2 separate regions of the Homo sapiens genome follow, and region 2 is linked to region 1. Evidence: fine-mapped expression QTL. A gene starts in region 1. The other region holds a variant in brackets. All regions are shown on one strand. Distances are from middle to middle.

Evidence for each region. PIP is the estimated chance that this variant, and not a neighbour inherited with it, causes the effect.
Region 2: its variant is the best candidate, but not a certain one, in a credible set for the expression of SDCBP in whole blood (INTERVAL, PIP 0.60).

The regions. Positions count from the first base shown.
Region 1 is chr8:58,550,794-58,555,190 of GRCh38, reverse strand. It overlaps SDCBP (syndecan binding protein), which reads right to left and starts at 1,930. Exons shown (of 9, transcript NM_005625.4): 1 at 1,888-1,930. RefSeq lists a silencer at 1,548-2,077 and enhancers at 1,554-2,271, 2,178-2,357.
Region 2 is chr8:58,641,907-58,646,303 of GRCh38, reverse strand. NSMAF (neutral sphingomyelinase activation associated factor) reads left to right here. Exons shown (of 31, transcript NM_003580.4): 2 at 3,231-3,320. Among named protein-coding and RNA genes, the nearest start is that of NSMAF, 16 kb to the left of the region's middle. RefSeq lists an enhancer at 300-860. The variant C/T (reference allele first, on the strand shown) is at 2,537.

The DNA of each region.
Region 1 (4,397 bases):
GTTGATTCACTGCAGCACTGAGTGTAACAGCAAAAGACTTGAAAGCTATATATGCTGATATTAGAAAAGCTCCAAAATATGATCACTAACTGGAAAAATAAGAGCAAAATGTGAAGCAGTATATAAAATGTTAACGTTTGTGTTAAAAGCAAGGAGGCAAATACAGCTTATATGTTTGCCTGTGTAGATATAAAATTTGCCTAGAATACCTAAGAAATGTAAAAAAGTTGCCTGCCTGCCAGAAGACTTGTTACTTTATACCTTTTTATGCTGCTTAAATTTTGAGACAAGTGACTGTTTACCTACTCAAAAACAATACATTTACAAAACATGTTGGCAGCACTTGAAAAGAAATTAATAAATGCTAACGTAACTATTGCTAAAAGTAGAAAGTATTTCAAAGTTATTTGGGGGCGCTTTTCTTTTTTAGAATCTCTTGGCATTTAATACCTATAAAAAGTTCCCAAATCTGGCAAAAACAGGGAAAATAGTTGTCACGCTCATTTTAAGAAACTCTTTAATTAAACAGTACATTTAACCGGCAACCATTAGCAAATTCTTCCCCTTTTGTTCATCTTTTTCCCCTTTTTACATCTTTTCCTATAATGCCCAAAACTAAAAGTTAATGTCTCCAAAGTTAAATTTAATTTATAATGGAGTGACTATTTACTGACCATTTTAAAAGTCATTCTACTTCTTTTTATTCTGTGCCACAAACCACTAGATTTATAATATTTATGTACCATTTAAGGCACAAATTTTATAGAATTAAGTTGGTAACACAGAAGACAAAAGGACGTATTTTCTACCGTTATCCCTCAATCTTAAACAGGAAAATAAAAAGACTGAACAAATTTGAGTTTTAACTAATCACATACACATTTAGAAATCAATTTAATTTAAAAGGCCCGCAGTTGTTTTTCAAGGTAAATTTCCTGCTTTAATCAACGATTTCTTTTTGAAACAAGCGGATGTTAAGAGTTTGGTAAGCCGAGCGTACTTTCTAAGCAATGTACGTAATGGAAAAGATAACAGTAAATGTGTATGTGGTTATACAGACTAGATAATCTACAAACTCCTTTCAAAAATGGACACATTAGAAGACTCCATGACTCAATAATCACCACTTTGGTAAAAGTGAAAACTTTCCACATCCATATGCCTTCCCTTTCCCATTATTACAAGGAAATCCTGAAAGGAAGGCTCTGAGTCATCATATCTCAGGGGTCAGATCTCAGGGGTATTTCCTTCTAAACACACCCTACTGGAAACGTTTCTCCCTCAGGTCCAACTTCTCCAGGAAAAAGCTCAAAGCGAACAACCTCTCCCCACCCCCTTCCAAAAAAGTCAAGGCTTCGCCCAATAAACAAACACTTCCTTCCTCCTTTCAAATCCAGGACTTTCCGAATAACCCAAAAGAAGGGCGATTAAGCACAGCCCTAGAAACGCCGAGCACTGGGAGGAACCGTGGCCAGAGGCTCTTTCTTATGTCGAGATCTTATCGAGGAGAAAACAAGGATCGAGAGACGGTCCCAGGAAGAACCCCAGAGCTGGGGCGGGGGCTGAAGGCGTTCACCCAGCCGGGCCTCCGGGCTCTGCCAGCCCCAGCCCCAGCCCCAGCCCCAGCCCCAGCCCGGGCAGGAACCCGAAACGCGCGGGGTCGCGGCAGGAAGAGCGCGCTGCTCCCGCAAACTTGCCCCCCCAGCCAGCAGGGCGCAGGGAGGGGCGCGGAGCCCCCTGAGGAGAGGGCGTCGCCGCTGCCTCGCGAAAACGGCTGCGACCAGGATGCAGTCTGTGAAGTGGCCCAGGGACCGTCACACCTCTGCCCCAAGTCCCCGCGCCCGGGACCTGGCACCGGCGTCCCTCCTTGCCCCCTTGGCCTCTCACCTAGCCCACAAGGAACCGCTCGCCGCCGCCGCCTCCGGTCACTGGCACGGACTTCTGAGGCCCGAGTGTAAGAGAGCGGTGCGCGCCCGAGGACCGCCCCCGAGGCGCGTCATGGCACCGCCCCCGCCTTCAGCCCGCGCAGTCGCACGGCGCCGGGTCGGGTGATCCCGTCCCCAAGGTAACGGGGCGGTAGGGGTAAAGAGGCCTGGGTGTGGGTCGTTCCTGCAGCTCCAGGTATCCGGCAAAGTGGGGCGGTTCATGCCGCCCGCTGTCCGCTGCCCGCTGCCCAGCGGTTATGCTCCCAGTCTTCTCCGCTCTTCGGCTGTTCGTGCCCGCGGGCCCCGTGCCACCCACTCACTACTGTGTGCATCGCAGCTCACGGTCGCTTGGTTCTCGTCGCCTCCAATTCAAAGAGGTCTCGGGAGCCCCTGTTCCCTCTTGGGATGCCTTCGACTTCCACCACTTGCTGCCCTAGTCTCACTCTCCGCTTGCTGTACCTCTCCACTATAGGCTCAGAAACGTTCCTCTCACGACCCCTTCTCAACTCCTGCTTTATTTTTCTGTTGGAAATTTGGATGTTGGGGGTGGGGGGCGTATTACTCTGTCCGCCTAAGCTAATATTCCTTCGCTATTGAGAGTTAGGTGTGGTGCTGCGCAAAAGTAATTGCTTCCCAGTAAAAAAACATAACGATCATTTCTTGAGGGCTGATTTTGTGCCAGCCATAGCTCTACGAACTTAATGTATAGTCTTATTTGGTCTTCACATCAGTCTATAAAGACATCCCATTACAGACAAAGAAACTGAGGCACAGTTTACCCAAGAGTAATCATAGTTACCACGGAATACTGTAGAGTCCTTGACAAAATAGCATTTACAAGCAGTTTATTTCTAGCTAAATTAGTGCCAGAATAATTTAATATATGGCAAAACTAATAAAAATCTGAGTGTAAAAGAGGTGACAACTAAAGATGAAAACTTTGCTCTCAGTAAGGTTATAGTTAGGCTGATGAAATGGACATTTAAAAATAATTACAAGGTAGATTGGGAAGGAAGAAATAAAACTTTTTGCTTTCAGATGAGATGGTTATCTAACATAGAAAATCCGGAAAAAATTGACACTCCTCGCCTAAAAAAACAGAATGAAAAGCAATTATAGCAAGTTTGCATGAGCAAGTTTAAAACAGGCTCATTCTAAGCCAAAATGCTTGGGACCAGAAATGTTTCCAATTTTGGATTTTTTTTTTTTTTGCTTTTGTAATATTTGCATTATATACTTATGGGTTTACCATCCCTACTCCAAAACTCAAAATGTTCCAGTGAACATTTCCCTTGGTCCTCATGTCAGCACTCAAAAAGTTTCATATTTTAGAGTAGTTCATATTTTGGATTTCTGTACTAGGAATAGTCGACCTGCATACATGGTCTGTTGTTTTCTTATATACCATCAATAAACAATTGGTATTTGAAATTAAAAACAATAACCACTGACATTAGCACCAAAATAAAATGAAATATTTAGGTATAAATCTAACAAAATATGTAAAAGGTTTATACAAGAAAAACTACAAAATTCTAAATAAAAAAAACTTCCAATGAGAAAAACTACAAAGTTCAAAGGAGATCTAAATAAATTTAAAGATATTCCATTTTCATGGATAGGAGTACTTGATATTTAACTGTCAGTTCTGCCCAACTTAATCTATAGATTTGATACAATCAAATCAAATCAATCAAAATCCCAGCAAGTTATTTTGTGGATATTAACTGATTCTCAAGTTTATATGGAAAAATGAAAGACCAGAAGAGCCAAACCAATACCAAAGGAGAGGAACAAAGTCAGAGGCCTAACAGTACCTTAGTTCAGGCTGTTGTAACAAATTGCCATAGATTGGGTGGCTTAAACGACAGAAATTTATTTCTCACATCTCTGAAGTCTGAGAAGCCCAAAATCAAGTTGCTGGCACATCTGGAAATCTGGTGAGGGCTCACTTTTGAGTGTGCAGATGGCATTCTTCCCATTGTATCCCCACATGGCAGAAAACAAGACAGATAAAGCACATTCTCTTCTATCTATTCTTATTAGGGCATTCATTTCATTACGAGGGCTCAACTCTCATGAGCTAATTATCTCTCAAAAACCTTGGGTCTAAATACCATCACATTGGAGATTAAGCCTCAACATATAAATTTTGGGGGGACACAAACATTCAGTCCATAGAAGTACTCAACTTCAAAATTTACTATAAAGCTATAGTAATCAAGAGAGCATGGTATTGACAAAAGAATAAACAAATAGATCAATGGAACAGAATACAAAGCACAGAACTTGACCCAAACAGATACATTTAACAGATCTTTGGCAAAGTAGCAAAGGACAGTCTTCTCAATAAATGGTGCTGGAACAACTGGACTTCCACATGTAAAAAAAAAAAATTGAATCTAGACATAGACTTAACACCCTTCACAAAAGTTAAATAAAAATGGATCATAGACTTAAATTTAAAAGCTA
Region 2 (4,397 bases), 91 kb before region 1:
GGAAAGAGAAGGAAGGATGTGTAACTCCAATTCTGTCTTGTGACTATATTGAAATTCAGATTAAGTATTGATAGTGTGCATTTTGTTTTGCACTCTGGCAGTTTACCCTGTAATTGATTCTTGTTCATGGATTTAGATATGGAGGACAGGTCAATAAAAGTTACAGATTAGGATGGTAAAATTGGTTTCTGCTATCATTTTTAATTTTTTGAGTTACTTTTCTTTTGGTTCAGATGATGATGATGATGATGATGATGATTTTGAGACGGAGTCTCGCTCTTGTTGCCTAGGCTGGAGTGCAGTGGCGCGATCTTGGCTCACTGCAACCTCTACTTCCCAGGTTCAAGCAATTCTCCTGCCTCAGCCTCCCGAGTAGCTGGGATTATAGGCGCCCGCCACCACGCCTGGCTAATTTTTGTACTTTTAGTAGAGAGGTGGTTTCACCATGTTGACCAGGCTGGTCTCGAACTCCTGACCTCAGGCAAACCGCCCGCCTTGGCCTCCCGAAGTGCTGGGATTACAGGTGTGAGCCGCTGCGCCTGGCCTATTATTTTTTTTTGATGAGCATCTCTTCTGGTGTTATGAATATAACTTCTTCTTTGTAGGGATATTAATTGTAGCCTTTTGACCTTTTCTTCTGTTCTCTGCATTGTGTTTAGTCCTTCAAGTTGCATTCTTCCTGCTTGCTTTGGCTTTGTTCTTTCATCCTAGAGGCTGTGATCTTGGGCTGTTCATTCATATTTAAATGTGAAGCATTTAATTCTGTGTCACTGGGAATGGGCTATTTCAGTTGAGTTTCACTGTGGGATGATGTTGTAGAGACCTGGCTTTTTCTCTGAGGCTGTTTAGTTTTTTCCAAAACTAATGTACCAGACTCCTGCCTGGAGTGATATATGGATGAAGCTGGAAACCATAATTCTCAGCAAACTAGTGTTCATCTATTCCATGTTTTGCATAGTCATCCTCTCTTCACACTACAATCCTGCTCTCCACTGTGCCTGATACCTAGTGTGCAGCCTCTTGTTCCACTTTTTTTTAAATAGAAAAACCACATGCCAGAGTGCAGTATGGTTAACCCATCAGGAAAAGAATTGGGGGCTACTGCCCTCATTCACTTTTAACCACCCTCATGCTTTACAAACCCTGTCCTCTTGGTACCTGATACTGCAATTTCTTTTTTTTTTTTTTTTAATTATACTTTAAGTTCTGGAGTACATGTGCAGAACGTGCAGGTTTGTTACATAGGTATACACGTGCCATGGTGGTTTGCTGCACCCATCAACACATCATCTACATTAGGTATTTCTCCTAATGCTATCCCTCCTCTAGCTCCCCACCCCGCCAACAGGTCCCCGTGTGTGATGTTCACCTCCCTGTGTCCATGTGTTCTCATTGTTCAGCTCCCACTTATGAGCGAGAACATGGCGGTGCTTGGTTTTCTGTTCTTGTGTTTGCTGAGAATGATGGTTTCCAGCTTCATCCATGTCGCTGCAAAGGACATGAATTCATCCTTTTTTACGGCTGCATAGTATTCCATGGTGTATATGTGCCACATTTTCTTTATCCAGTCTATCATTGATGGGCATTTGGGTTGGTTCCAAGTCTTTGCTATTGTGAACAGTGCCGCATTAAACATATGTGTGCCTGTTTCTTTGTAGCAGAATGATTTATAATCCTTTGGGTATATACCCAGTAATGGGATGGCTTGGTCAAATGGTATTTCTAGTTCTAGATCCTTGAGGAATCGCCACACTGTCTTCCACAATGGTTGAACTAATTTACACTCCCACCAGCAGTGTAAAAGCATTCCTATTTCTCCACATCGTCTCTAGCACTTGATCCTGCAATTTCTGAACTTTTTGGAAGTCCGGTGACTTGAACTGGTTTTCTCCTGAGTGGTGCCTTCTCTGGAGGCATCTGAAATTCTGATTTCTGAGCACTGCTTATTCCCCCGGTCTGCTTTCCATTTCTCACAGATTTGTTCATGTCTCTTCTCTGCTTTAATATCTCTCCAATTTGCTTTAGCCTGTGGGTTTTACCATTTAAAAATAGTTTTATTCACATTGTAGTGGTGTTTCAAGAGGCAGTGAAATAAACATATATGTGTAATCTGCCATGTTTAATGTAAATTTCTTCCTCCAACACACTGGAACTTAAGGCCCATCTCAAGTCCCACACTTTTCATGAAAGCTTTTGCCTGTAACTCATTGATGTTTCCTGGTCCTTATCACAAAACAAAACAAAAAAATGCCTGTTTTCACTTCTTTGTCATGTATTTGTTGCTGTAGCCATACAACAAAATTAATAATTTTTCTTAATGACTTCTCTTGTTTTTAAAAGTTTAAATGACTTTCAACTTTAAAAAGAACTATATTTCAATCCCATTCAGTTTGGTTTACTCATTTTACTTATTAAACACCCATTGTGTAGACAGCATGGGCTGGTTATCACAAGGGAATATCTAAAGATCTGTTGGCTGGGCCGGTGGCTCATGCTTGTAATCCCAGCACTTTGGGAGGCCGAGGTGGGTGGATTA[C/T]GTGAGGTTGGGAGTTCGAGACCAGCCTTACCAACATGGAGAAACCCTGTCTCTACTAAAAATACAAAATTAGCCAGGCATGGTGGTGCATGCCTGTAATCCCAGCTACTTGGGAGGCTGAGGCAGGAGAATTACTTGAACCCGGGAGGTGGAGGTTACTTGAGCTGAGACTGCGCCATTTTACTCCAGGCTGGGCAACAAGAGTGAAACTCCGTCCCAAAAAAAAAAAAAAAGATCTGTCCCTAGAGGCATGTGTTCTTGTGGGAGTAACTCAGATAACCATGAGGCAGATGTTGGGGGCAGGGAGGTATGACAGGGAAGAGGTGGGGAAGCCTAGCATTGTTCAGTCAGGGGAAACAAATGCTCAAAATTCCCTAAGTAGGAAAGCGCTGAGCTTTGTTCAGATAAGGATAAGTTTAACTTCACAAAATTCAGGGTTTCTGTAAAAGAGTAGTACATCCACCTGGTGAGTGATTTTATTTTTGACATAGTAGTTATTTGGACACAAGGCAAGCCCAGCTATGTACTTCCCGCCACTGGGTAGAGAGGACTGCCTGGCATGATATACATGCTTCATAAATGTTTGTTAAATTCAAGAATGGAAAAGCTTTTTGGGATCAGACGTTTTAAATATATTGCCTTCTTATACTTACTAAAAAATAAACTGAAAGTTGTTTTTTCGCCCCAAATCCAGATTTTCCTTGCTGCTGCTTAACTTGGAGGAGTACTACTTTGAACAGCATAGAGCCAATCACATTTTGCACAAGGGCAGTCACCATGAAAGGTAAGGAAGCTTCGGTATCTCCTTGGACAAACAAACCTTTCTGATATCTGAACTTTTAAAGTTAAATGTGTGATCATATAGGTGTTAACTAAAGAAAAAATTAGGCTTTAAAAAAAATTAAAGTAAATTTTATTTAGACTTTTATTGAGGATTATAACCTAGGAGAGTCTTTTGGAGAGTTTTTGCTATGTTTATTATTTTATCTCCCATGAAGTTTTTTTCATCTTTTCTCTTATTAGGGAAGTAATGAGAAGAGTGTATTTAAAAGTTATAATTGTAACTTGAAACCTTTTTCAAAGCTAAAAAGCATTTGTTCCAATTCTGGGGTTGTAGATATCTTAAGCTTGATAGGACTCCAGTCCATCCCATCATTTTTTTGTTGCATCCCTCTTGTAGTTATGCAGTATCCTCTGCTCTCAATTATTCGGGTGACAATGTTATAAAGTAATGATTATAAACCACAAGAGTGGTATAAAATCAGTACTTTCAAAATGAGTCATGCGATTTGAACTAGAAGCAAGATCTGATTTCTCAGTATCTTAATAACTATTACTCACTACTATAAAAACAGATTGTTTCTTTGACTTTACCTTTTGAAAGCTATGTACAGAAGCATGTAATGAAGCTTTTTGTTTGCTTAAAATGGCAACTTAGAATTAACTAAGATGAAAATTGTTCCACCAAAAAGGTATCTGCTAATGATTTCCTTTTGGGAGGTTACTTAACAACTGTAAGCCATAACTTAGGAAATTCTTTGACAGTAGATAAATCCACTTATTTTTATTATTCTTCAGGTTTATCCTTAACGGATCAAAAACATGTGGTATTTGTTTAAATACAAGCTAAAGTAAAACTCACTTGGTTTTTTTGTTTAGTAGCTTATGACATATCTATTTTCTTGGCATTCAATCAAATTAGACAATTATTCATCCCTGAACACAGCACCTTGCTTTCTTATCTCTGGAATTTTGCTCATATTCTTTTCCCTAATTCCATATCTTTTTTCCTTCCAACATTCTTCTATCGTATATCATCATAGTGCCTTGCTTAAAATTAAATGTACTTGTTTATTATTAA